4 linked regions of the Homo sapiens genome follow. The protein of the gene in region 3 purifies or fractionates together with the protein of the main gene of each other region. This does not show direct contact. Each region holds a gene or a part of one and is shown on either strand. Other genes may lie near its edges. The genes, in order: DCAF10, MRPL39, TRUB2 and FASTKD2.

Region 1 (7,023 bases), about 90 Mb from region 3:
TTATTCCTTAGTCTAGCAGCATCCTTAGTTTGTAGTATATCTTACTTAGTTGCAACTAAAAAAAATTGCTAGCCTAGGCTTTAACTGGGAGTTTCTATTATCTAGAAGGTTACTGTGAACCTTTCAGAAAAGTGGAAAGCAACCAAAAGAGCTGTCTCAAAGACTGTGTCCCCCCAGAGTTTGTCCAGCTCTTACTGTAGACACTCTGAACAGGCACGGTTATCTCATGTCCAAAGCTCATAACAGCACATTAGAAGAAAGTGGGGAGCCTGTTAGAAGCAGGCATATTGATAGTGTGGGAGAAGACATAGCAAATTACTTAGCAGATATTTTAAAAATTTTAAAATCCAACAGCAGTCTGAGGCAAATGATTCTGTATACCTCAGGGCTGAGAGAATCACTTTATAACATATTTGTTATAGCCCTTTACATTTTATGAAGTGTTTTACATACATCAGAGCTGGATACTTATAATAATACATTATGAATATAACTTTAACTTTTCATCATGAAAATGTGAATTATACTGAGCATGATGTTTAAGAAGAAGGCAGGAAGGTATACTAACATACCTGAAATACTCACATCAAAAATAATTACAAGTTTTAAATGTTGGCACTTGAGAGATATACATTAGCTATCCAAAAATTCATATGTACGGTTTCCTTCAAGACCAACACGGGGTATCACTGAGTGAATTTTCACAGCGCTCAGTGACTGCTGGTCATTAAATGGGGATGATTGTCATCAGTATAAGTATCACACTATTTGTCCTGCTAAATGCAAGTTAAAAGATACTTATGGATGCCACTACCACATATTCTGACAAATAAGGGAAACACTAGGCTTTTAAAAGATTCTTAGAGTGTTTTCCCTATATTGCACTTTCTAGATAACACAATTTTAACAATGATATAATGTGATCTTGGTTCTAGACACAGCAGTGGGGAACACATGAATTTACCTTTTTCTTGTTCCTTTTCTTAAAGTTTTTAGTATAGTCTCAGGAATATAGCAAGGAGAAATAACAAAATATACATGTGCTTTGGGCTTCTGAGGAAAAAAGACCACCCACACACATTTTTAAAAGACTAAAATAGACGTCTCTTCTGCTTTAGCCATTTCATTTTCACAACTGAAAATAAGGAACTACTATATATTTGATGTCCCTAACTCATTAAACATAGCATTGCCATAAATGCACTGTTCTGCGGAAAACTTTTTAAAACAGTAGAACAATTTGTACTGCATTTACTAACAATTATACTACATTACCAATTATCATGAATTATGAATAAAAATTACTGAATAAAATTCAGAGTAAAAAACATCAGATTAGATTTTACTCTTAAGTGAAATGGGGCTTTGAAATGTTAAGATGTAATTTCTTCCAATACTATAGCATTCCTAATGCCCTTTAATTCCTTGATTAATATTCCTTGCTAACTTTTTGATCATCACCATATCTCAAGGAGGACAAAGGTTCTTTTGAGTTTGCTGGCTGTTAATTTTTAATTCTCATCTGTGTGGCTCGGTTTTTTTTCACAATGCCGTTTATCCTTAATTTTTCTTTTCTATTTTATAGCTGCTTATTCTGCTTGAAGTTTTTTAGTCAGGAATGGCCAGAATGTGTGCCCTGAGTTTATGATATTCTCATGGAAATTGTTAATCTTATGAATTTTTTTTACATGATACACACGGTAAGCTAGCTCTATAATTAAAAAAAAAAAATCCAGAAGATACTAAACAAATAACAGGCCAGCTTACCATACTTTACAAACTAAAGAGCACAATGGTAAAGCAGTAAGCACAGGCTTTGGACAAGACACAAACCTGGGTTTGAATCCCAGTGCTGCCACTCACTGCTAACTCTATGACTTAAGGCAAGTCATTTAATCTTTCTGACCCACTATTACCTCCAAATTAAATTGGGGCTCATTCCACCTACCCTGCAAGTTTTTGTGAGGGTTAGTAGTGAAGTCTGTATATTATTTGACACATGATAGGTACTCTATAGTAAAGAATCATTGGCTGAATTTTGAGTTGGGTAACTTGCTGGTCTAGCATCTGACATGAACTCTTTCCAGAGTTGATACGATTTATGAAACTTCTTTTGAATGTCAATATGACCACAGTACTTGGTAGGTATTTTTAAATAATAACAGTTTGGGTGTTTTCACCTCCAAAACTAATTTTATTTTATTTTATTTTTTTTTTTTTTTTTGAGGCAGAGTCTCGCTCTGCTGGTCAGGCTAGAGTACAGTGGTGCGATCTCGGCTCACTGCAACCTCTGCCTCCCAGGTTCATGCGAGTCTCCTGCCTCAGCCTCCTGAGTAGCTGGGATTACAGGCACCTGCCACCACGCTTGGCTATGATTTTTGTATTTTTGGTAGAGACAGGGTTTCACCATGTTGGCTAGGCTGTTCTCAAACTCCTGACCTCAAGTGATCCACCCACCTCAGCCTCCCAAAGTGCTGGGATTACAGGCATGAGCCACCATGCCCAGTCTATTTTTATTTTTTGAGACAGGATCTGGCTCTATTGCCCAGGGTGGAGTGCAATAGTGCAATCTTGGCTCACTGCAGCCTCTGCCTCCCAGGCTCAAACCATCCTCCCACCTCAGCCTCCTGAGTAGCTAGGACTACAGGCGTGTACCAACATGCCCATCTAATTTTTGTATTTTTGGTAGAGATGGGGTTTCGCCATGTTGCCCAGACTGGTCTGGAACTCCTGGGCTCAAGTGAACCTCCCACCTTGGCCTCCCAAAGTGCTGGGATTACAGACGTGAGCCACCATACCCATCCCTATTTTCTTTAAAAAATGTGTTTTTTACAAAATGTATGGTAAGTATATGTATTTACTGTGCTTTGTGATAATTTTCTCAGTGACAAAAAATTTCCAATTTTGTTAACATCCATGGTAAAATGATCTAATTTCAAAAATTTGTTCTAGAGCCAAGATCCTTATAACCTCTATAAATGTGTGTGAATAGTTAGTTGGCAGGTCCTACAAAGAAATGTCATTTTTATTCATGTATTTTGGGTTGTTTAAACATTTCTGTAAGATTTAAAATACTTTTCTTCTTATGGCTAGAATTCTCAGCATCTACTCCCATGCCTGCCTTTCTAAAATCTATTGGCCAGTTTAAGGGTATTTACAATAATACAACTTAAAGACAAAGTGTCCATAAGTCATTATTTCTAACAGACAGCATAACACAGTAGAAATTGCCCTGACCAAGGAATTAGAAGACTGGAATTCAAGTCCTAACTCTGCCACTAACTTTGCAGGATGACCTTAGGCAAGTCATGTCACTTCTCTCATTTGTCAAATAATGCAAATGATTCCATTCTAAGGTATTTTCCACCTCTAAAATTGCTTTCATTTACTATTATTATTTTTTAAATAATGAAAACACTTTCTGGGAATTGTCTTAAGCCCAAATGGGTAGAGAAGAATTTTTTTTTTTTTTTTTTTTTTTTGAGACAGAGTCTCGCTCTGTCGCCTAGGCTGGAGTGCAGTGGTGCAATCTCGGCTTACTGCACCCTCTGCCTCCCGGGTTCAAGTGATTCTCTTGCCTCAGCCTCCTGGGTAGCTGGGATTACAGGTGAGCACCACCACGCCCGGCTAATTTTTGTATTTTTAGTAGAGATGGCGTTTCACCATGTTGGTCAGGCTGGTCTCGAACTCCTGACCTTGTGATCCACCCACCTCGGCCTCCCAAAGTGCTGGGATTACAGGCATGAGCCACTGCGCCTGGCCGAGTAGAGAAGAATTTACTGCTGATTAAGGTTGTGTTTTTCAACCTGCAATCCCGAGACCCTCAGAATAAAGATTACTTGAGGTTGCTATGAAAAATACAGATTCCTGTCCTCCCCCTGGCTGAATCAGAATCTCATAAGGTGAGGCTCAGGTTTCTGCACTTTTCACAAGCTCTGTAATGGTTACAGTGCACCCTAATGTTTGAGAACCAGTGGCCTAAAGAGAATGCAACCTAAGAGGGCAAGGCTAGTGCATAGCTTAAATCGCTCCAGCCTTTGGTAATCCCTTCTAAACACAGTACCACCCATGTGGAGGAGACTGCAAGGAAGCTGTTATTCAAAGTAGAACAGTCAGCCTTGTGCTTGAGTCCTGCTTTATGCTTGCGTGTTTCATAACAAAACACAAAGGCAAGTCTTCATATCAGCACTTAGTCTTGATATCCAAGTAGCTGACTACTGTACTTATGATAACAGCTTGAAGAGGACTGCAACTCTCCCCTCACGAATGGTGACAGAGTTGGCTTGTCACACCTGGCTCAGGGAAGAAAAATGAGTAAACCCCTACCTCTTTACTCTTGATTCCTCTTCCACCCTAATACTGTTAACACATCATCCTGTGTGATTCAAATAATCTGGCAGATGAAATACAGAAAATCTAAGTCATATTGTTCTTATCACTCTATGGCCAGATATTATACTAATCTAATTTTAAAAATCCTTTTCTGTGCAATAGAAATAACCAAAGCTCATTCTGTCTCCTTTCCTTTCTAATGCTGTTGATAGGAACAAAATATCAAGTAAGGATACATGCTAGAGATGTTAAATTCATACAAGTAAAGTAAATTACAAAGAGAGGTGGTAATATTTTTTTCTAGAATTTCACAATAAAATCCCTCTCACCATGAAAATCTTTTTATAATTTTAACAGGAAACTTAAAAGACATTTTGTTGCAAGACTATCTTAACAATTATAAGAATAATGCCATTATCTGTGCTCAATATAGATAAACATAACAGTAACTTTAAAAGGCCAAGTATACTCATAAGTGAGGATGAAATTTATTTTTCAACAACCAATATGCCAATATCCAACTTCTAGGTTTTATTCAATTCTAATGTCATGGGTTTCTCCTACCCCAGTCAAAACTCCTGCCAAATGTCCACAAAATTGACACCAAAATCAACAAACACAAAGAAAGAGAGGGACAGGGAGAGGGAAAGAGAAATAGAGAGTGAGGAAGGAAGGAACGTGACAAGAGCTACCATGCAAAATGACCAGAAGAACTGGAGTTCAGTGGCACAGATCAGCAGGAGCAGAGGAATGCTGCAAAAGATGATGCTGCATAGAGTCTAACTTGGAGATGCCTGTATGATGCTGGATGACCAAGTACTAAGGTCACAAGTGTGTTCATGGACCCATAAGAACCAGGATCTTGACCCAAACTTATAAGATCTTCTAAAAAGAAAATACTTCATCTAAATTGAAGCAATTCCTAAGTCAAACACCAGAAGAGTTCCTTATTTGATGTAAGTTGTGCCTAAAACTTTGGCTGATACAAAGAAACCCGTCCACTAAGGCACCCTGAGGCAATCTGACAATGTGTTGGAGAGAACTTTGTTGTCAGTACCACATCATTATGAGAGTACAGAGAACGGATCACCCGCAGGGGACTGGCTTCTTTGGGCAAGCAGTCAACAAGTTCACTGCACTGTTTGTCAAATCCCAACAAGCGAATCCCATAGCCATGTGGGGAAGAAATCATTCGTCCATCGGGGCTGAAGCAAAGTTCTTTGATGTAACCCCTGCCTACATTGGCTTCTTCAATGTAATGAGTCAGTCGTAGAGAACAGCGAGGTGAGACAGGTCGCACTGGAGCTCCTTCTTGGAATTCATAGACACAAGTACACTAGGGGGAGAGAAGGGAGACAAACCAAGGTTACAGAGCCCAAATAGTGCTACAGATATTCCTTATTTTTAAAAAGCTCAACAGATTGCCAAAGCCACAGAATTTTTACAAGAAATCACTCAGAATAATGCTATCCCCCTCCCAACTAACAAAACTTGTAGGCCCCCTACTTTCTTATCTTCATAAGCTGAGGTTATTCTGTGTTATGATGCTTTAAAGCCTTTTGTTCCCTGAGGCTGCCTGTGACTTTTGCAGTAATACATTCTCTTTTCTAAGGGCAACAACAATGTTGATATTTTAAAAATTCCTGGAGTACATCCAAGCCCTAGAGTATCTTACCTCTTCCCCTACACAATTCAAAGGCTCTTCTCTTCTCTCCTTTCAGTTGTGGCCTCTAGGACCAGTGAGATCCTTGGAAGACTCTTGCTTTCCAGAGTGATGAGAATCATAAAGTCATTTAACACCTTTCCCCCTAGTCATCAGTATAGTCCCTTCCTTTCCCAGAGTTTCCCCTGGTTTTTAAAAAAAGAAAATTATGATACTCAATTGGCTTAGTAAAATCTCACATTTAGCCAGCTTAGCTGAAACATTTCAGACCTATGTTTATTATACAAGGGGTTTTTGTTTGTTTGTTTGTTTGTTTGTTTAGGGTGAGATGAAAGAGGCAAGATTTAAGAAGCTGGGCAAAAACTGAGCTGATGCTGGCCTTTAAAGTACCTCCCACCTTGCTCAACCCCAGCAGGAGAGGAATAAGAAGAGTTTGGAAGGGATAATGATACCATATGAAGCAAGAGAGGACAGAAACAGGAGAGTCGAGAAGCAGGATCTCTAGCAGTATGCCCTTGAAGGCAGAGACTGCAGTCAGCGATCGGCCTAAGCTCTGCACACACGGCAATGGCAATTTGTCCAATGAGCCCTGTTGAAGGTGGAGTGCTGCTGCCTGTACCTCCTCATCATCACTGTTGCTTGAGCACCGAAGAAGAGTGGCCCAGCCTTTTGGGTGCAGCTGTAAGGACGTGATGCAGTTTCCGTGGTCACTCTCACCAAGAACTTCAGGGGTTACGACTTCAAGACTATTTCGTGGTGAAACTCCTGAGATATAAGAAAATGAGGATGTGGGATTTGTATTATCAAAAAACTAAGGCAGTTCATCAAAGCTTTTTATTTCTGGCAGCCACCTCCCATGCCGTCATTCCTTAGTCTGCCCCTTATGCTACCATATGTTAAAGAGCGTGGTACTCCCCAATGTATGGTGTGTGAGTTTTGGCGGGGTGAAGGTGTGGGGAAAGGGTATAAATAGAACAAAAGATCCAAGTTCCCACAGCAGTAATTGTCACTGACCTAAGGCTAAGGCA
Region 2 (7,475 bases), on a different chromosome or scaffold from region 3:
AGACACGTAAAATGCATGTCAAATGCTTCTGCAATTATTTGATTCCCAAAATACAGCTTATTTGTATGCTTCCTAGACCTTCAATTACAGGCAGTGTAACTGACCCAGGGCCCCAGCTGCTGAACTCTGAAATAACATGTTTGCTTTGAGGCAAACATGCTTCCTGCTTCCCAGGGGCTGCTCCCAGCCAAAGACTGAGCACAGTGGGGACACTGAGGCATGCCCACTTTGGCTTTGGGGATTTACCTAATGATCTTGCTGAAACTTTATTAGACTGCACTGGTGGTCAAGAATGCGTTCATTCAATTTTCCTTCCTTCTCTTCTTCACATGGAGTCAGCCTTACCTGGCCACCTTCCCCTTTTCCCTTACAAACATTTCTCCTAACGATTTCCTTGCATACTTACCTCTGTCTTGGTATCTGTTCTTCAGAGTATCTGGACTAACACAAACTGATTAAAAGTACAGCTTTGTGAGGCACAGAACCATATGTTTGGTATCTTGCATGTTGGGTCAGTAGGAGGAACATAAGATAGAGGTTATGTTCCTCTATCTTATGGGGATACTGATAGAGGCATAATAATGGGGTAGCTGATAGAGGCATCAAGAACTCTCAACAGTGGTATCCTGTGTGGGGTTTTGGTAAGAACTTGTGAATCAAGAAAAGAACTGAGAGTGAAACTTTTCCTTAGGCACCTTTACATTAAAAGACAAAATTTCCCAACAAGTAAATGTATAATGATTTGAAAATGTAAAATCAAATATTTGGATTTAAAAAGCGTATGAATTTGAGAACAAAGAAAGTATAGGGTTTGGAGACAGCCAGATCTGAGTTTAAGCCCCAGATAATCTTTGCGATCTTGGGAAAATTACTGTGTTACTGGATTTTTTTTTTTTTCTTTTGGAACAGGATCTCACTCTGTCATTTAGGCCAGAGTGCAGTGGTGCAATCACAGCTCACTACAGCCTCGACTTCCTGGGCTCAGGTGATTCTCCCACCTCAGCCTCCCAAGTACCACCACACCCAGCTGATTTTTTGTATTTGTTTTGTAGAGACAGGGTTTTGCCATGTTATCCAGACTGGTCTCCATCTCCTGAGCTCAAAGGAGCTGCTCACTTCAGCCACTCTACAGTGCTGGGATTACAAGAGTGAGCCATGAAACCTGGCGTTGTTATTGAATCTTGATTCCAGTGATTTGCATTCCTCCTTGAATGTGAAGTATATAACCTCATTTACTGGCTCCCTGCAGGAGGCATCCTACTTGATTGACATTGGTCTTGACCAGGGGACTTGCTGGGGCCAGGGGACTGTGTGGCTGAGACACAGGTGAGTCTGAACAGAAGCTCTTAAGAGCCAGTGCACAAGGTGGTTAACTGCATTCTTTTCCCTCTGCCACAAGAAGCACAAGACCAAGTAGGGGCTGCTTCTATGGCCTGGATTCTGGAATAAAGTTGCAGAGCCGCAATTGGCTGGTAGCTGCCATCACTGACAGCCAACATAAGCAAAATAAACTTTCATGGTTGAAAACCACTGAAGTTATTCTCCAAAGTTTTGATGTTGAAACATTTCAGAATAAAGTTGAAGGAGTAGTTCAACTAAAATCCTCACTTAGATTCTCTAATTGTTAACATTTTGCCACATTTGCTAAATTTGTCTTGTTCCCTCCCTCAATATTAGAGCTCCCTGTTTTTGCTGAAACATTTGGGAGTTTGTTATAGGCATAGTGATATTTGGTTCCTAAATATTTTAATATATATATCTTAAGAATAAGGATTATTTCCTATATGACCATGACACTATTATTGTATCCAAGAAGTATAACATTGATATAATATTATTTAGTATACAGTTCAAGTTTCTCTGTCACAATAACATTCTTTGTAAATTTTTTTTCCTGATCCAAAACCTAGCGAGGATCATGCATTGATAATAACTGTATATTTCTTTAGTCTCCTTTAATTTAGGACAGTTTATTAACTATTTGGGGGTTCATCTTTCATAAAACTTACATTTTTGAAGAGTTTAGGTCAGTTGTTTTGTAGAATATATCACTTTTTGGATATACCTGATTTCCTCATAATTCTTTAGATTCAGGTTAAATATTTATGTTAGGAATACTCCATAGATAATATTGTTTATATCACAACCAAGAAGCACAAATAATGTCAGATTGTCTCATTTTGGGTGATGATAAGTTTGACCACTTGATGATGATATCCACCAGATTTCTCCATTGAAAAGTTTCACTTATCCATTTGTATTTTGTCAGTAATATGTGAGGTGATACTTAGAGACTATGTGACTATATCCCTGATCCTCAACAAACTTTCTCTACTGATTTTAGCATCTATTGACGATCCCTTCCTGTACCAATGGTTACATTGGTAGATGCAGAATGGTGATTTTCCCTATTCTATTATTCCTATGACTTTTATTATCTGGCATTCTTTTGTACAGAAAACTCTCTTCACTCTTTCTACACTGATTTATTCTTGAGTGTCATTACGGATTCATGAATTTTTAATATACATGTCATAATATTTCAGCATTATTCTTTTTGTTATGCAAACTCTCCCAAATTTGGACAGCGGGAGGACCTTCGAGCTTGGTCCGCCGTCCTTTTTAACATGTTTCTGTTTGTCTGTATTTTATAGTTAGTTGTAGGCTTTCTGGCACAGTAATGATCCAGGCTTATCTTAGATATTTACTGTTACAGACTTGATACTTTTTATTTGGCAGAGACATTGACAGAGTGAGACTAAGATTTGGGGAGCTGGTTGATAAAGAAGGCAAGATAAAGAAGATTCAGAGTAAGAAAATATTTGGGGGGAATTCTTGGCCAAAGATTTACCTCGGGTATGTCTCTCAAGCTCTTAAAACCTGAATTTCTTTTCCTGGAATATGAAGATTATTATGCCAATTGCTCAGGTAGGTTGTGAAAATTAATAAACCAAGCCCTATGATTGGCACATAGTATTTTTTGGCCATTATCACTAGTGACAACCTTTCAACTAGGTTAATTTCTCATACCGGTGAACTCCAATTACCTGCCTCCAATGGGTTTGTGATCAAACTTGCTTAAGTTTATGTTCAGAGGCTTTGCTTAAATGTGGCTCTAAGATGTTCTAAGGGCACTAGAGTGTTTCTAGGTAAGGTTAAATGGGTACAGGCTCTAAAAGGCCGATGAAACAGACAGCTTTCATGGGAACTGTATGCAAATTTGAGGAAGCAAAAGATACACCCGCCCTCCAACACTATATGTATATATGTACATTTCGTGGTTTGAATTAGGATCTTAAATGAAATGTAGCCTGGTAAAATGTAGACTGGATGTAAATCCAAGCTCCGTCACTTACATTTCCCATTTTAAAAAGTGAAGATACTTACACTTTCCTGGCGCAGTGGTTGTGAGTGTAACATTTGGGCCAAGGAGACGGTCGATCTATCGTGGCGCAGGGTCATATTTGTACCTTAGGCGGCACTTCCACCTGGTGGCGGCGCATTCCAATTGCAAGGCAAAGGACAGAGTGGGGGAAAGGCTGAATTCGACACCCTTAAGTAAAGCCACAGAATTAAACTACTGTAAATGAAAATATTTCCATCCTGTACCTACAGAGTGCTTACTTCAAATAACACTCACGTCCTGGTAGGACAGAAAAATTAGACAATGAGCTGAAGTTTGCCTGCAAGGGCATTCATTCATTCATTCATTCAAGAAACATCTGTTGAGCGCTGACTGCGCTGTGCTCTGTTCTGGGCGCTTGGGATACATCAGTGAACTAGAGACAAAAATTCTGCCCCGGGATGCCTTCTCCTATACATCCTATACTATATAAACTAAACTAGAAAATTTGTAAAGAGCTCTTAGGAATTACAACGTCCTCTCCAAAGTCAAGGGGACGTGTTCCGAGGCCTCTATTACCACAGCTAAGGGGAGAACCGGGGTGCAGACCCACTCCAGCCGAACTAAGAACCTACCCGGCACAATTGAAAGTTAAGCCACGCGCTAGAGGATGTCATCGCTGACAAAATAGAAGACGCCTTCCCCATTCCCCCCCACCCCCGCCCCCGCCAAGAAAACCATATATTCTTTTAGGGAAGCAAGCGCTTCACCTGGGTGGCCGGGATCGAACCCGCGGAGGGCTGAAGGCGGAGGGCAACGACGCCTGTGGAACTCTGTTTCCCTGCAGAGCCTACGTGGTGGGCGGCAGGCCGACCGCCCTGGGGGCCCTGCACCTCTGGGTAGGTGACCGCGCCCAGGTATCGAGCACAGGTAACGCGCCCCGGCTCCGAGTCTCGGGGTCTCAGCCACTGAATCCCCAGCGAGGCCTGACGCCCCCCGGTGGAGGCGAGCAGTCTGAGTGCTGGGTCCGGAACAGACCTGTCCTGCGGAACTCCGAGTGCGCGTTCGGTTTCCGGGGGAGGAGGGCGGAGAAGGACTTGCGCGCGACGGTTCTCACCGCTGCTATGGAGGCGCTGGCCATGGGTTCCCGGGCGCTGCGGCTCTGGCTGGTCGCACCCGGTGGCGGGATCAAATGGAGTGAGTTTCAGAGGCCGTAGGGACAGGGAGCGAGGCCTAGATAGTGGTGTCTGTCTAGATTGGGTCTGAGGCGGGGCCGGGGAGGTCCCGCGGGGCAGAGGAAGGAGGAGGGTTTCTTAGTCCCTCCGCGGCGGTCGCTCTTGCACAGCTTGGGAGGACTAATTTATGGGAACGAGGGTCTGGCGGAGGGCAGGGGCAAGGGCAGGGGTCGGGGCCAGGGGTCGGAGCCAGGCCGCGGGAGGAGCTTGGGCCCGCCTCTGGGAAGCAGCGCACGTTCCGTGCACATCTGTCCATGTCTTCCCAAGGAATACTCGTACTTGCCTTGGCAGGTTCCCTGATTTGGCCTTTGGGATATAAACTCAGCATTTCTCATTCTGGATATTGATAGTTTCGGTGTGGGACCTTTGGTTTCCTGAAATTTTCTTGTTTTTCTTCAGACCCTGTCAAACCGACCACTTTGTTCACCTTCCCAATGACTCTAGTCCAGTTTTGACTCCGTTTCCTGGTTACTTTTTGCCCCTTATTGTAAAGCACTGATTGGAAACACGACACAGGAAATTGGTGGGAAATAGCGATCTGATGTGAAAGAGCCAAATTTAAAAGTAGAGGCACGTATCTGGGCCAGCTCTGTTTCTTCCGCTGGTGTTTGTTAATATTACAAATTGGTTTAATTTTACCTCTGAGCGCACTTTTGGCAGTACGTTAATCATTTTTTCAGTCTTCATATTTATTGTAACTTCTCCACAGGATTTATAGCAACATCGTCAGCTTCTCAGCTGTCACCGACAGAATTGACAGAAATGCGGAATGATCTCTTTAATAAAGAGAAAGCCAGGCAGTTATCATTAACTCCCCGAACTGAGAAGATAGAAGTTAAGCATGTTGGGAAAACTGACCCCGGTACTGTCTTCGTGATGAATAAAAACATTTCAACTCCCTACAGTTGTGCCATGCGTAAGTAGCAGAATCAGGTTACAGTTTTGACCCTTTTACTTAAGCTGTGTGGAAGCACTGGTGCAGGAGACAGGATGCTGTAATTACTTCTGGTCATCTGTGGCCATGGCAATCCCTTTATACCAAAATCCTTTCTTGAGACCTGCATGGTGACTGCTCCCACCACATCACAGACCTAGCTAAAAAGAGCAAGCAAATCCCAGCTACTTGGGAGGCTGAAGCAGGAGGATAGCTTGAGGCCAGAAGTTCAAGACCAGCCTGGGCACCATAGCCACCCTGTCTCTCAAAAAATAAAAATAGAAATAAATTAGCCAGATGTGGTGGGCGCAGAAGTCCCTGGACTTCCCAGAGGTTCTTTATCTGGCACCTTATTGTCTATTCACTGTCCCTGTAGTTCTGGAGGGTACTCTGAGTATTGCAAGGTTGGCACTGTAGTGCACAGATTGTCCTGCCTGGCGCTTGTTTGAATCTGGCTTTGTTTATGGTACTAGATAATTTTCTGGCAGAAGGTGACCAGACCTGAGTGCATTGTTACTAGTGTGCTTTCTCCTTTAATTTAATTTAATTTTAGAGATGAGGGTCTGGCCCTGCTCCCAGGCTGGAGTGTAGTGGTACTATCATAGCTCACTGAAACTCCTAGCCTCAGCCTACGAAGTAGCTGGGACTACAGGTGCCCACCATCACACCTGGCTAATTTATTTTTATTTTTGAGAGAGAGGGTGGCTGTGGTGCCCAGGCTGGTCTTGAACTTCTGACCTCAAGCTCTCCTCCTGCTTCAGCCTCCCAAGTAGCTGGAATTTGCTTGCTCCTTTTAGCTAGGGCTGTGATGTGGTGGGAGGAGTCACCGTGCAGGTCTCAAGAAAGGATTTTGGTGTAAAGGGATTGCCATGGCCTCAGATGATCAGCTTTTTTTTGCCGCCTTTTTCTTTCTCCCCTCTTCATTGTATAGCCTAACTTAATCTATCATCTGCTTTCCACTTGGCTCTCTCTGTGTTGTATTTTTGTTGACATTTAGATGTACATGTGGTAAATGTGTGAGTGGGAATGTGCATGGGGTGAATGTGATTGGGGTAAAAGTATTTATGTATATCTTAAAGGAGACAACTGTGCCCCATGTGTGATTTTGTGTGGAAATGAAGGGAATAAGAACTTCTATATTTTATTTTTGATCAAAATGTTTTGATAGTACGTTTGATAGAACTGGTAATATTTAAATTAAAGAAGCCCCAAAACAGATACAGGCATGACTAGCTGCATTGCTTAAACTTTTGGAAAACTCAGTAACCATTCCATTTAAGTAATTAACAACTTTAGTTATCAGCTTAAACTGGCCTAGAGAGTCTACACTCACTCTTAATCTTCCTTCACTCTGGCATTTGAATTAGTACTTATAAATATTTACTCATTTGGTTTTCAAGTATTTCTGGAACCTCTGCGATATGATAGGCATTAGGACTACAGAGGAGGATAAGACAAAACTCAGGCCCTTAAGGAGCTTTATACACATCACATGTAGTGATGAAGCTTCTGAAGCATCCTCAGCATGACCCCTGCAATGAGACGTTCTTGTCATTCATGCTTGCAGTCATTCAGTAAACTGTTATTGAACACCTGCTATATTCCAGGCCTGGTGCTAGACTCTGGATATACTGATGAGTGAGCAAAAGTAGACATGATCCCTGACTTTACGGGGTTTATGTAGTGGTTGATAATTTAGACCTTGTAGTTTGACTACTTTTGTGAGTAGCTGTGTAATTGCAGAACATCTAATTGGCATTAACAGTTGGCATTGCATTCTGGGATGATGAAACAGACCAGAGCTGATTGGCTTATCCGGGAGTTAATATTAATTATTAAAAAATGGTAACTACTGTATTTAACTTGAAGCATCTATGTCATGGAAATAAGAGATGGTTTGGGAGCAAGACCCAAAACCAATCTAGAACTGATTTTTGTAGGTGTGTATTAATATATTTCCCTT
Region 3 (7,710 bases):
AGGTTTCAGTGAGCCGAGATCTCACCACTGCCCTCCAGCCTGGGTGACAGAGTGAGACCCTGTCTCTAAATAAATAGAATACTACAGTTGTCCCTTGGTATCCAAGGGGATTGGGTCCAGGATCCCTTGCAGATACCAAAATTTGTAGATGTTCAAGTCCCTGATATAAAATGGCATAGTATTTGCATATAACCTAGGCATGTCGTCCCATATACCTTTTTTTTTTTTTTTTGAGGCAGAGTCTCACTCTTTCACCCAGGCTGGAGTGCAGTGGCACGATCATGGCTCACCACAACCTCTGCCTCCCAGGTTCGTGCGACTCCTCGTAACTCAGCCTCCTGAGTAGCTGGGATTACAGGTACGTGCTATCATGCCCAGCTAATTTTTACTAGAGACGGGGCTTTGCCATGTCTTGAACTCCTGACCTCAAGTGATCCGCCCACCTTGGCCTCCCAAAGTGCAGCGATTACAGGCGTGAGCCACCACACCTGGCCACTTTTTTTTTTTTTGAGACTGAGTCTCGCTGTGTCGCCCAGGCTGGAGTGCAGTGGCACGATCTCCGCTCACTGCAAGCTCCGCCTCCTGGGTTCACGCCATTCTCCTGCCTCAGCCTCTGGAGTAGCTGGGACTACAGGCGCCCACCACCACGCCCGGCTAATTTCTTTGTATTTTTAGTAGAGACAGGGTATCACCGTATTAGCCAGGATGGTCTCGATTTCCTGACCTCGTGATCCGCCCACCTCAGCCTCTTTATTTTTTTTGGAGACAGAGTCTCACTCTGTCACCCAGGCTGGAGTGCACTGGCACAGTCTCGGCTCACTGCAGCCTCTGAACTCCTGGGCTCAAGTGATTCTCCCACCTCAACCTCCCGAGTAGCTGGAACTACAGGCATATGCCACCCCACCTGGCTAATTTTTTTTTTTTTTTGAGACAGTTTCACTCTTATTGTCCAGGCTAGAGTGCAATGGCACAACCTAAGCTCACCGCAACCTCCGACTCCCGGGTTCAAGCAATTCTCCTGCCTCAGCCTCCTGAGAACCTGGGATTATAGGCATGTGCCACCACACCTGTCTAATTTTGTATTTTTAGTAGAGACGGGGTTTCTCCATGTTGGCCAGGCTGGTCTCGAACTCCCGACCTCAGGTGATCTGCTCGCCTCAGCCTCCCAAAGTGCTGGGATTACAGGTGTGAGCCACTGCACCCGGCCTTTTGTATTCTCTTGTAGAAGTAGGGTTTCCCCATGTTGCCCAGGCTGATGTTAAACTCCTAGGCTCAAGTAATCCACCGCCTCAGCTTCCCAAAGTGCTGGGATTACAAGCATGAGCCACCAGGCCTGGCCTTCCCATATATTTTAAATCATCTCTAGATTACCTTTTTTTTTTTGAGACGGAGTCTCGCTCTGTTGCCAGGCTGGCGTGCAGTGGCACAATTTCGGCTCACTGCAACCTCCGCCTCCCGGGTTCAAGTGATTCTCCTGCCTCAGCCTCCTGAGCAACTGGGACTACAGGCGCCTGCCACCACTCCCGGCTAATTTTTGTATTTTTAGTAGAGACGGGGTTTCACCATGTTGGCCAGGATGGTCTCGATCTCTTGACCTCATGATCCACCCTCCTCGGCCTCTCAAAATGCTGGGATTACAGGCGTGAGCCACCACGCCTAGCTAGATTACTTATAATGCCTAATATAATGCCTATGCATCACCTTGAGTGGATTCAACACAGTACTAGGTGCACAGCAAATTCAAGTTTTGCTTTTTGGAACTTTGTGTTTTTCTTCCCAAATACTGCCAATCTGAAGCTGGATCATGGGATGTGGAACTCATGGACTCAGAGGCAACTGTACTTAGTGACACGTGAAAATTACCTGAAGTTCAAATATGAATATTCATAAAGTTCTATTGGAATACAGCTAGGCTCATTCCTTTAGATACTGTCTATAGCTGTTTGGCACTACATTGGCAGAGTTGAGCAGTTCCAACGGAAATCACATGGCCTGAAAACTAAAACATTCAGTATCTGGCCCTTTCCAAGGAAATCTGCCAATTCCTGGTCTAATACCTCACTCCTCTGTGGACCTTCAAGGGCCTGGCACAGGAATCTGAGCACTGGGACACTGACTCGGCTCAGGGATTTCCTGGGAAGTGACACACAGGATCCTGCTTAAATCTGCCTTACCCAGTGGATGGTTGATGAAAGAGGGTACGCTGGTGGCTGTGAGGGTCAGCTCCTTCTCTTCGCTGCCTTCCATGGGGCCCAGCAAGAAGCGAACACGCTGTTTAGGAGCGGGAGGCTTCCTGGCATTGAGACCTGAACACACAGAGATAATATATACACACATACATACAAATATATGTACATATAAAATATTTTTTAAGAGACAGGGCCTCGTTCTGTAGCCCAGGCTGAAGTGCAATGGCGCCATCATAGCTCACTGTAACGTCAAACTCTTGGGCTCAAGCGATCCTCCTGCCTCAGCCTCCAGAGTAGCTGGGATTACAGGCGTGCACCACGATGCTGACCAGGAATATCTTGTTCTGTCCAAACACTTGGGGGATTAGACAACAGGGAAGTATGATGTAGAAGACAAAGCAGAAGCCCATGGTGCAGAGGGCAGTATAGCAGTAGTTAAGAAACAGGCGGATTCAAACAGACTCTACAACGTAGTAACCGTGTGACAAGGAACAATACTGAGTCAGTTTCCCCCTCGGAAAACAGAGGAAAGTGAGGAGTAAGAAAGCACAGAGAACAGGCGTTTGGGAAAGCGCTCTGCCCAGGTGAATAGGTCACGTGATTTTGTTTTGGGGTAAGGACCAGAAGCGGAGATGGACTTCCAAGAGAACGAGAGCGGGAACGTGGGTCTGGTTCGAGGCACTCACCCTTCAGAAGTTGTAGCTCCACTGTATCCCGCAGGTGCTTCCATTTTAGCCCCGGGGGCTTATAGACCGCGAAAAGCCCATGCAGCCGCGACAAGCCAGCAGACCCCATACTTGAAGATCACAGCACCCGCTGGACCTGGACGGAAGTACCGCCAGGCCCCGCCCCCAAATGTGGTCCTTTCCACGGGCGCCGCCATGTTCCACAGCCGGAAGAGGTTCGCATTTTATAGTCTTCGGGGAAAACCGGCTGTGGAGAAGGAAATAGGGCCCGGCGCTGAGTGAGCGTGGTTGCGTGTCCTTTGCAGACACTTTCTGGGGCGAGGTGACATGGCGAGAGTCTTGGATCGGTGGACGTAGACGGTAGACAGTTCGCGTGCGTTTCCTTCGCCTACTTGGCCTACATGCCTTCTGCCCGTGAAGCGATGTTTCCCCTCGAAAGGCCGTAGGCTACGCCGTCAGAATCGGTTTTTCAGTGAGTTTTGACCCCTCCGACGCTCCGTCGCCTGACAGAATCGCGGCGTTCTTCGTACCCGCCCATCCTCCGCGGACGCCCGCTGCCATGGCGACTCTGCTGCGCCCTGTCCTCCGTCGGCTCTGCGGGCTCCCGGGCCTACAGCGGCCTGCGGCAGGCAAGTGGCGCCGGGTTCTGGGCGCAGGCGGGAAGGAGCCTGAGGGCGCCCGGCTCCTCTGACCTCGGCCTTTTTCTTGCCCCGCAGAAATGCCCCTCCGGGCTAGGAGCGACGGCGCCGGCCCGCTATACTCGCACCACCTCCCCACCTCCCCGCTGCAGAAAGGGCTGTTGGCCGCCGGCTCCGCGGCGATGGCGCTCTATAACCCCTACCGCCACGGTAAGGCCGCCCGCGCCTCGCCCCCGTGGGGGCGGCTTGGAGCCGTTTCCTGTGGGTAACTGGAACATAGCCTAGGTCGGGGTACCCAAACCTGGTTGCAGCTCGTAACCACTCGGAACGTTTATGAAAATGCAGATTCCTGGATCCCACCTAAACGCACTGAATCTGAATCTGAATCTGCAGTGGAGGGAGAAATGGGCGTGAAACCGAAAGTCTGTCTTTAAACTACTTGGGAGAATCTGTCATGCAGCCATATTGAGAACATCTAGACTAAATAGATGATTCATAAGTACCGATCAGTTTATAATATCCTACTAGAAAGTCAACTCCGAGGTCGAGGACCATGTCTGCCTCGTTCCACTGCATCTGCAGCCTTCTGGATAGTGCCTGGCACATAGTAAATGCTCAATAAATGTTTGCTGGATGTGTGACTAGAACATTCTAGGGTTCTACAGTGTTTTTCTTATGCCTCCTAGATTTTTGAGTTCTGGGAAGTACTGTTATTCCTACTAACAAAAACAGGCTAGGCGCTATTATAGTGGCTCACGCCTATAATCCCTATCGGGGGGCCGAAGCGGGCAGATGGCTTGAGCTGAGGAGTTTGAAACCAGCCTGGGCAACACGGTGAATCCCCATCTCTACAAAAAAAAATACAAGAATTAATTGGGGCTGGTTGCATGCGGCTGTATTCCCAGGCTGAGGTGGAAGGACCATTTGAGCCGGGGAGTTCGAGACTGCAGTAAGTTGTGATTGCGCCATTGCACTCCAGCCTGGGCGACAGAGCGAGACCCTGTCTTAAACAAAAAATACACTATATCTCCATGTCCCCAGTGGTTTTTTGTTTGTTTTGTTTTGAGACACAGTATTGCTCTGTGGCCCACGCTGGAGTGCAGTGGCGCAATCTCAGCTCTATGCAACTTCCACCTCCCAGGTTCAAGCGATTCTCGTGCCTCAGCCTCCTGAGTAGCTGGGATTACAGGCCTGTGCGGCCTGGCTAATTGTTGTATTTTTAGTAGAGACGGGATTTTGCTATGTTGCCCAGGCTGGTCTCAAACTCCTGACTTCAGGTGATCCTCCCACCTCGGCCTCCCAAAGTGTTGGGATTACAGGCATGAGCCACCACGCCCGGCCAAGACCAGCGAATTTTTTAATTTTTTTGTAGAGACGGCGTCTTGCCACGTTGCCCAGGCTGCTCTGGAACTCTTGGCCTCAAGTGATCCTCCTGCCTCAGCCCCCCAGTGTTGAGATTACAGGTGTCAGCCGCTACACTTGGCCACTAAGTGTTATATATATATGATTTTCATGGTTTCTCACATTAACCAGCTAAGAAAGGTGTTGTCTGCACTTCACAAATTAAGACACTGAGGCTGAAAAATGTGAAGCAGGCCAGGCATGGTGGCTCACACCTGTAATCCCAGCAATTTGGGAATCCAAGGTGGGAGGATCACTTGGGGCCAAAGTTCAAGACCAGCCTGGGCAACATAGCAAGACCTCATCTCTACAGAAAATTTAAAAAACTAGCTGCATGCCTGTAGTCCTAGCAGTGAGCTATGATCACACCACTTCACTCCAGCCTGGGCAACAGAGCAAGACCCTGTCTCAAAAAAACAAAACAAAACAGAAATGTGAAGCAATTTGTACTAGGTCACCTAGATAGTGAACACACCTGGACTGTAGCCCAGCATCTCTGATGCCTAAGCCTCTACCAATCAATGGAGACATGATATTGTATTGTGAAAAGTGATTTATAAAATCTTTACAACGTTGTGCTAACTAGAGCTGTCCCGCCCCAGTAGATTAAGAATAAGAACTATAGATATGTATACTGATCCCTTGTTGTGTGCTGGGTAATTTGCTAAGTGTTTAGCCTGAATCCTTATAACAAAGAGCTAGACATCATCCCTAATTTATCCTGTAGGAAACAAAGGCTCAGACCAGGTCAGCTAACTTACCTAAGATGACATCCCCCATTTGTGCCCGTTTCTGTCCTTTCAGACATGGTCGCAGTTCTAGGGGAGACCACAGGACACCGCACCCTGAAGGTCCTCAGGGACCAGATGAGGAGGGATCCAGAGGGTGCCCAGATCCTGCAGTAGGTCCCAGCTCTGCCTGGGGGTCTGGGGGCATTCTCTAGGTATTCTGACCTCTCTAGAATCACATTGTGTTTGTTCTGTTCCGCTAGGGAGCTTTTGATACCCTGGCTACATATGGTTGCACAGGCTGGGCACTGCCCAATTCCAGGGGTGTCATTCACATACATGTGTATACACTGATGACTTCCGAGTTGTGCAGTGTGATAGCCTTGGCCCAGTTTCAACCACAGGGCTCTGTGCCTTCATTAAGTTCCCATAACATGTGCTGGCTTTACCCCTCCCTTGCAGTACCTTTTGCAAGTACTCTGGTCACATTCGAGGACTGTCTTCCTGCCGAGATTGTACCCCTGCCCATGTCCTTGGTTTGGGGTAGTATCCTAAGTCCCTGACACTAGCCTGGCCAGTTGTAGGTGCTCCATTAAGGCTTGTGGTGGCCACATTGCTCCTCTGTACATTCTCCCGCCCCTCAGCTCGCTGTAGTTGGATCGTTCACCTACCTTTGCCCACACCCTCCCAATGCCCAAGTCTTGCCTTTCAGGGAGCGTCCCCGGATTTCGACATCCACCCTCGACCTGGGCAAGCTCCAGAGCCTGCCGGAAGGCTCCCTCGGTCGCGAGTATCTCCGTTTCCTGGATGTGAACGTGAGTTTTCAGCTCCTGTGTATCTGGCAGTCACCAGACAGGACAGAGGAATAGCACAGGCATGACACCCTGAGGAAAGAGGAGCCCTGAGCTGCCACCATTGGCAGGAGTGCTCTTCAGGCTCATGCCAAGGCTTTGTCATTTTCTATGGGATAGGCAAATGGGTGGGAACATGCCTGCAATTGATAATACTGGCCAGTGTTCATTAACCTCGCACTGCATGCCTGATGCCAGCCTCATCCGTGATCTTGCTGAATCCCCCCACAACTCTGTCAAGTATGTTCTATTATTATCCTCTTTTAGCAGATAAGGAAACAGAGGCTCAGAGCAGTGAAGCAAACTTGCTAATTCCACATAACTGGTATTAATGGAGATAGTAATCAATCCCAGATCATGCTCTTCACTGCTGTACTGTATCCCTTTATTCCAGGGACATTGCTTTCCCTACGGTATGGCAGGTGTGGCACTCTCCAGCCCCTCCAGCCCCAGGCAGGGAGGACAAGGAGAGGGGGAAAGGGGGTGTCCCGACTATTGGCAAACTCATTCACTAACTGAGGCTCTGCTATGTGCCATCCCTTTTTTTTTTTGAGTCGCTCTGTCGCCCAGGCTAGAGTGCAGTGGTGCGATCTCTGCTCACTGCAAGCTCCGCCTCCCAGGTACACGCCATTCTCCTGCCTCAGCCTCCCGAGTAGCTGGGACTACAGGCGCCCGCCACGACGCCCGGCTAATTTTTTGTATTTTTTAGTAGAGACGGGGTTTCACCGTGCTAGCCAGGATGGTCTCGATCTCCTGACCACGTGATCCGCCCGCATCAGCCTCCCAAAGTGCTGGGATTACAGGCGTGAGCCACAGCGCCCGGCCCATCCTTTTTGTTTTGTTTTGTTTTGAGACAGGGTCCCGCTCTGCCACCCAGGCTGGAGTGCAGTGGCGCCGTCTCGGCTCACTGCAACTCAGCTTCCTGGGTTCAAGCGATTCTCCTGCCTCAACCCCCCACGTAGCTGGGACTACAGGTGCACACCACAACGCCCAGCTAATTTTTGTACTTTTAGTAGAGAGGGGTTTTACCATATTAACCAGGCTGGTCTTGAACTCCTGACCTCAAGTGATCCACCTGCCTCAGCCTCCCAAAATGCTGGGACTACAGGTGTGAGCCACCGTGCCCAGCCCAACCATTGTTTTGTGTACAGGGGATATAATGGTGAACTAGACAGCCAAGTTCCCTGCCCTCATTTCTATTCTACTTCGAGAGGTAG
Region 4 (7,023 bases), on a different chromosome or scaffold from region 3:
TTATGTGTGTGTGTGTGTCCAGTGGAGTTAACAGAAGATACAAGTTCCTTGGGGTCAGGATCCATGTAGCAGAGCTTTTACATAAAGGGTAACTGACCCACGGGTGTGTGCAATGATGGCATGATCTTATGCATCTACTGAAGAGGCAGGATGTTCTCTCATGGTATAGCATCATATTTCTCCCCAGAGACACTCTATTTGTAATGTGTGAGCCAAAGAAACAACTTAGGATTAGCTTCAATGTGCTCTAACCCATACAAATACAGTTTAATTAAAAAACTACGGTTTCTCTACCTCTGGAAAAGTCTTGGTGGTAGAGCAAAATATTTATTGGGTATTTGATTTTTGTAGAAGCCTCGAGTCTTTATTCTTTATGATCACTATTATATTATCTTGTCCAAAGTCTACACTGCATTGATAGTTTCAATTATATTAATATTGTTTTATTGAACTATAGCTTCAAAACCTAATTTTAAAAAAATGTCTGTCTCATTAAATGACCAATACTGTAGTCCATTGTATTCAACCATAACGTCCACATTTACACTTTCTAAGGAGTACATTGATGGATGACAAGTCTCTTGGTGTGCTGCAGGCTCCATACAAACATCAAGTCTTAGATTTACTACTGCTATTTAATATGAAGTCTTTTAGAATTAGGATTTTAATTCAGAAAGCCCAGCAAATGAAATATATGTAAGCAACCTTTGAATATCTGTAGCAGAAGTTGTATCCACATCAGAAAGTGGTAGCACTTGATTCCTGTTAGTGTCCATTCTGATTTCAAAATCTGAAAGGAAAGAATTGATATTAATTTTTCAAACATTCCTCCAAGTGACTTTCTTTTTCTTTTCTTTTCCTTTTTTTTTTTTTTTTTGAGATGTGGTCTCGCTCTGTCATCCAGGCTGGAGTGCAGTAGTGTGATCTCAGCTCACTGCAGCAACTTCCCAGGTTCAAGCAATCCTTTTACCCCACCCTGTTGAGTAGCTGGGACTACAGGGGCATGCCATCACGCCCATCTAAGTTTTGTATTTTTTTGGTAGAGACAGGATTTTACCATTTGGTCAGGCTGGTCTTGAACTCCTGAGCTCCAGTGATCCACCTGCCTCGGCCTCTCCACATGCTAGGATTACAGGCGTGTGCCACCGTGACCAGCCCCAAGTGATTTTCTGTTTCAAAATGTTTAATAGTACTACCAATAATGATAATAGCAGTAGCTAAAATATATTGAGAGCTAACCATGTGTCAGATACTAGTCTTGGGATTTTAGACACATAAAAATGTGTAGAATTTCATTTATTGGTCACAAGAATTTTATGAGGCAAGAATCAGGCCAGTTCCAGAGGCAATGCTGCACTACACTAAACTGCTGCCACAAATACCTATTTTTTTGGTCAGAAAAAAAGGAAAATAAATACAATAAAATGAAAGGAAATCATATAATGTCCCATACCAATATGATAATTGTGTGGCAAGTGCACATCCTTTGAGAAGTGTCCTTCACCTCCCAGAAGGCTGCTCAGCACCTCTGCCACCTTTGCATTTGTATGTGACGATGGCAGCTCCCGCGGCAGCTGTGGGAGTGACAAGGCTATGTCCCTCAGATAGACAGTATCATCAAGTTTTAGACAAGTATCCAAAGTATGCAGCTTGTAAGCATTCTTCATGTCATCTAAAAGATGAAAAAGAGAGTATATCATTAAGAAGAAATAAATGCAACATTAAAAAACTATATTAGTATATATTTAGTAATAGTTATAAAATAATAAATATATACATAAATGCACTTGTATTTCTAATTATCTCTTTCTTATCACAAGGACTCTCTCTTTGTCTCCCTGGTTTCCACAGGGTCTAAATCAAAGCCCTGCACTTGATAATGTTTTAAGGCTTCAAATATCTTTAGAGGTCATTTAGTCTAAACTCCTCAATTTATGGATAAGGAAATGCCCAGGAAAGTTAAAAAGCCTCGTAATTAAGGCAAAGTTGGAACTAGAATCCAGGTTTCCAAGGTTCAAGGCTGTTTCTCCATTATTACACTGCCTGAAAAACCAGCACGTGGTATTATTGACTGACTCTCTACAACTCAACTTTGGGATTTTATAACATTTATTTATTTATGTTTTAATTCTGAACTACTCTATTCTCAGACACATCGTCAAATTTTGTACATCTACCTGAATATTGCTTTGCCTTATTTAATACTAAAGACTAAAAGTCAACAGTTAATTTGGTTCCAAGAGTAAATGAACTAATTAATTTGGTGGCTATTTGGTTTCTTGATCTAACAGGTGTTCCCTCATCACAGGCCAGGAGTGACCAAGTGTTTACAGCTGCAAAAATTGACTTAGGTTGGCTTCAAATGTGATAAGTAAGGATTAGGAATTAAAACAGCTCTGATCAAAGCATAAAGAACAGCCTGAACAGTTAGCCTTTGTATAGAAGGATAGAGTATAAATAAAAGGAATAATGATGCATTCCTTATTTTTTTCTACATGTAGGACTTGTCATTAAAGAAGGGTCTGTAGGTTTGCTGCTTTGAAGCACTATCCTTTGACTTCACCATTATCAGCCCTTTCCACAGCAACACCTGCTCTGCAAATTTCAACTAACACTGCTCCAACTAAGACCCCATTCAGAGTCATATGGTAGCTAGTGGTAGTGCAGAATTGGTCACAATTGGTGACCAATTCTGCACTAACATCCTACCTGATGTCAGCAGCTCACTGATGATGTCTTTTTGCAGAAGCTGATTAAAAGGAGCCAGGGGAAAGTAATTCATCAAGCAAAATGAATATACTGCATCCAATAAGTTTTCAGAAGAAATAGTGTGAAGATAACCAGTCAGAGCACTAGCCATAACTTCCACGAACTGTCTGGGGAACAAAGAAAAGTCAGTTTCCCAACATATACAGAAGGCCAATATCTGTAACGATTCCAAAGAAAAGAGATAAGAAAATCAGCCTTGCAAGTAAGTATCCACACATCATTCTGGACAGTTGGTTATCTCATAATAAGTGTATACATTCAATAAATGTTGGCTATTGCTGTATGTCTTGCACGAGACAAACATTTTATAGACTTTAACTCATTTAACTCACACTAAAAAACTCCATGGGTATTACTATTATTCTCCTCATTTAAAAAAATGGGTAAACAGGCTTAGAGATTGAGTAACTTGTCTAAGAACACACAGACAAGGAAGTAGCAAAGGCAGTATTAGAACATAAGGTGTCAGGCTCCAGAACCTTTTCATAATTATGCTAGATTTTCTATAACGCCTGGACCACCACTACAGTTTTATAACCAACTAAAATTATCTAGTTATCAATACTATGGGTTAAAAGAACTGCAAGCCTAATCCTACCACCCACAGCTAATGGTACACAGTATAACGTGGTTAAGCACAAATGAAGACAGAAAAGATCAAAATCAGGGGCAGTCGCTTGCCCAGAGTGACACCACTAATAAATGGTAGATACCCTTTGAACACACGTCAATCTGATTCTCAGGGCATATGATACATATAGTTATATAAAAAAAGAAATACATGCAAAGTACTGTGATCTCGCAGAGGAAAGAAAATAAACAGAAGCTTTTGGGAGGAGAATTTGAATAAGTGGAAAAGATGGAATAAGGGAAGAAGATTTGAGCACAGCCCTGAAAGCACATGCTACTTGCCTGATAGTGAATAACTGGTGAGATGAAGGTACAGAGGAGTGTTTCTTAACAGCTGGGGCAAATATGCCTGGACACAAGCCCTTGTTAACAATGAGACTGAAATCAACTGAGAGGTCCATGGGTAGGGGAAGAAGTGTTGGGGAGGATGAAGGGCTGTGATAAGGCCAGGAAAACGATAGGAATTATGATGAAATGGGAGGAATATAACAGATCATATACGCAATAGCAAGGCAGCACGTCTGAAATTAGTACTGACTGCTTTTGGAACATGCAGTGGGATGCGGGGGCAGGGGATGGTGTGGACAAGGAAGTTGGGAGCCTGGGTAATGATCCCCCCTCTGGTCTTCTCTTGCCCCACTCCTCACCCTGTACCTCATGCTTCAGCAGCCCAAACTGTGTGCTGTTCCCTGCATGTGCTCTGCTGTTTCTTTCCTCCAGGTCTTGCATATAGAGGGCCTTTCACTTGGAATGTTCTTTCCTGCTTATCTTTCCATGGTAAAACCCCATCTCTCCATCTTTTAAGATCAGCTCAGATACCAACCCCTCCAGGCAACACTGCCTGATATCCCCTGACCCTCCTCTTCACCAGGCTGGCATCCTGATATATCCTTCCTCTATTTCCAAATATCCTAGATGATATGGTTTGGCTGTGTCCCCACCCAAATCTCATTTTGAATTGTAGCTCCTATAATTCCCTTGTGTTGTGAGGGACCCAGTGGTAGATAGCTGAATCATGGGGGTGGTTTCCCCCATACTCTTCTTGTGGTAGTCAATAAGTCTCACGAGATCTGATAGTTTTATAAGGGGAAACCCCTTTTGCTTGGCTGTCTCTCTTGTCTGCTGCCCTGTGAGATGTGCCTTTCATCTTCTGCCATGATTGTGGGGCCTCCCCAGCCATGTGGAACTGTGAGTCCATTAAACCTCTTTCTTTTGTAAAGTGCCCAGTCTCGGGTATGTCTTTATCAGCTGCGTGAAAACAGACTAATATGCTAGATCACTCGAATTTTCATGCTATATTTAACTGCCAATTTACATATCTACCTTACCCATTACACAGAATCCTCTGGCAAGAAGGACTGTCTTATTCATCTTTCTCCTAAGTGTCCAGGTGCTTGGCAAATGCTGACTAAACGAACAAATAAACTTTGATGAGGAAGACAGGAGGACGAGCTTGTCATTGGAAAACGATGAGTCAAGAAAAATAGCTGACTTCCAGAATTACTGAACTTGAGACACTTCTGGGATGTGCAGTGACCATATGCAACCCACAGAGACTCAGGTCTGGAGTTAAGGAGCACACTAATGACCACAGATGCAAATGTGGGATTATCCATAAGGTGGTAAATACAGATCAAGAAGAGAAGAAACCAAAGGACCAAAACAACAGAGCTTAAACGTTACATATTTGTTCCTTGGGTTCAAAGCCCAGCAAGATACTCTGGATTTAACACCCTCTCCCCGATGGGCCATCATAAATGAAATAATGATTAATGTATAGCATGTGGGTATACAATAAGCCAGAATTCCTACCACTCTCCTATCTAACCATCTCTTCTAGTCAACTCTCTTCCCAAATACTTTGAGTTATTCTGCTTCCAAAACCTTTGCTACTCCAGATAAGTTGCCATCTTCCTTTCTCCTTCCTCCATAAAGCACTTACTTGGTGCCTACCATGTACTGCCTTCCTCTGGATATACAACAGAGTTGTTCTCATAAATGGTCTAGGAAGAGCAGGGAATACAAACTTCTTTTTTTATAGCCTTCAAAATACCAAATCCAGGCAATTGTACATTCATGGGCATTCAGGAAATGGTGACTAATTAATCTTGCTATATCTGCCATATTGCCCCTACTTCTCCTTTGGAGAAATGTTGAGGTGGGAGGCTTAGAATTAGGTAAGGGTTTCTCAATCTCAGCACTACTAACATCCGGGGCTGGATAATTCCTTATTGTGAGGGGCTATCTTCTGCATAGTAGGATGTTAGCGGCACCCCTGGCCTCTGTCCACTAGAGGCCAGTAGCACAGACCTCCCTCCTGTTGTGGCAACTAAAAACCATCTCCATACCTTGCCAAATGTCCCCTGGGAGGCAAAATCATCCCTGTTTGAAAACCACTAGGTTAAATGAAAGCAGAATAGACAGACAAAAAGACAACATTCATGATTCTCCTCCTGTACTAATTCTACTACTGCCATTTTATTAAATGTCCTCCCAGCCTTTGTTACCTTTGTTATCCCCCCTCTATTTTCAATGTAACAATTTTGTTGGAACAAGTTATCTCTCAGGTTGCCTGGAGTCACCTGAAAAACTCTTACCCGCCCAGTACTTACTCTCTTAATCCCTCTGGGGCTGTTTCTGGAGTTTTAATTACCACTTAGCTTGATATTATTTGTCTAGAAAGTACAAGGCATCAATGGGAGCCAGCCTCAGAAGAAAATGAAGCCAGGGGAGTAAAGGAAGATTGAATTTGGGAGATATTTTTCGACCTTTATTAAATGTCTACTCTTTGGCAGGTCCTGTACTAAGTTCAGAAAAACAGGCAGCTGGGTCGGACTCCGGAGAGCTTACCAACTGAGGAGCAGAGACAGACTTACTGACACAACAAATGATGTGACACAACTTGTCATGTCTTACCCAGTCTCCGGTGCAGCCTGTTGTCAAGGCTGCACCGGAGACTGGGTAAGACATGACAAGCACAGGGACTCTGACGGTGACAATTAGGGAAGACACAGGAAATGCAGTATGAGCTGAGTCTGTCCATTCAGTGGACAGTACAGTGGGAAGCTGCTTTTTAGTTGGCCTGACACCACTTAATTGATTAACTGCCCCTAAGGGATGGGCATTTGACTCAAACTCAGTCAATCAGATGTTCTCTTTCAGAAATCTAAATCTGGAGGGAAAACTAAAAGGAAAGCAAGCAGCTGGAGTCAAGTCATTTGATGGCAAACAGATGGCCTGTGCATCTTGCCACTGAGACCTTCACAACTGCCCTAGTTTGTTCCCCCAAGGCCTCTGTGACCTACACTCTAATTTTTTTCAAATCTAAAAATTACTATGTGCTGGGCATTGTCATAAGAACTTGACATAGATTAACTCATTTAATTCTAATAACAACCCAATGAGATTAGACATAGCTCATCTCCATTTTAATAAGTGAATAAACTGAGGCACAGATAAGTAATTTGCCAAAAGTCAAGCAGCTAACAAATGGCAATGCTGAAACTCAAACCTAAGCAAGCTAGCTCTAGAGTCCATGCTTTTAATCACTGTTTTAACAAATGACATTTTATATGCTTTTCTGATTTTTAATGAACCCTGACTGATCCAAAGAGTAAGAAAAGA

Evidence for each region.
Region 1: the proteins of TRUB2 (region 3) and DCAF10 purify together in Homo sapiens (affinity purification with mass spectrometry; 3 studies listed by BioGRID and IntAct, with this or other methods). This does not show direct contact.
Region 2: the proteins of TRUB2 (region 3) and MRPL39 purify together in Homo sapiens (affinity purification with mass spectrometry; 3 studies listed by BioGRID and IntAct, with this or other methods). This does not show direct contact.
Region 4: the proteins of TRUB2 (region 3) and FASTKD2 purify together in Homo sapiens (affinity purification with mass spectrometry; 3 studies listed by BioGRID and IntAct, with this or other methods). This does not show direct contact.

What each region holds. Positions count from the first base shown.
Region 1 is NC_000009.12:37,859,785-37,866,807, reverse strand, and holds part of DCAF10 (DDB1- and CUL4-associated factor 10), read right to left. Parts: intron 6,761-7,023; coding exon 6,615-6,760; intron 6,181-6,614; coding exon of another isoform or gene 6,148-6,180; exon of another isoform or gene 6,008-6,147; intron 5,669-6,007; coding exon 5,300-5,668; 3' UTR 1-5,299. UniProt on the Homo sapiens protein: May function as a substrate receptor for CUL4-DDB1 E3 ubiquitin-protein ligase complex.
Region 2 is NC_000021.9:25,604,468-25,611,942, reverse strand, and holds the start of MRPL39 (large ribosomal subunit protein mL39), read left to right. Parts: upstream 1-4,461; 5' UTR 4,462-4,467; coding exon 4,468-4,540; intron 4,541-5,287; coding exon 5,288-5,494; intron 5,495-7,475.
Region 3 is NC_000009.12:128,319,425-128,327,134, forward strand, and holds the start of TRUB2 (pseudouridylate synthase TRUB2, mitochondrial), read right to left. Parts: upstream 3,024-7,710; 5' UTR 2,985-3,023; coding exon 2,876-2,984; intron 2,795-2,875; exon of another isoform or gene 2,432-2,794; intron 2,307-2,431; coding exon 2,175-2,306; intron 1-2,174. Other genes in the region: ubiquinone biosynthesis protein COQ4 homolog, mitochondrial isoform 1 precursor, read left to right, coding at 3,435-3,504, 3,592-3,723, 5,719-5,815, 6,355-6,457. UniProt on the Homo sapiens protein: Minor enzyme contributing to the isomerization of uridine to pseudouridine (pseudouridylation) of specific mitochondrial mRNAs (mt-mRNAs) such as COXI and COXIII mt-mRNAs.
Region 4 is NC_000002.12:206,782,586-206,789,608, reverse strand, and holds part of FASTKD2 (FAST kinase domain-containing protein 2, mitochondrial), read right to left. Parts: intron 6,376-7,023; exon of another isoform or gene 6,301-6,375; intron 2,877-6,300; coding exon 2,710-2,876; intron 1,673-2,709; coding exon 1,454-1,672; intron 791-1,453; coding exon 706-790; intron 1-705. UniProt on the Homo sapiens protein: Plays an important role in assembly of the mitochondrial large ribosomal subunit.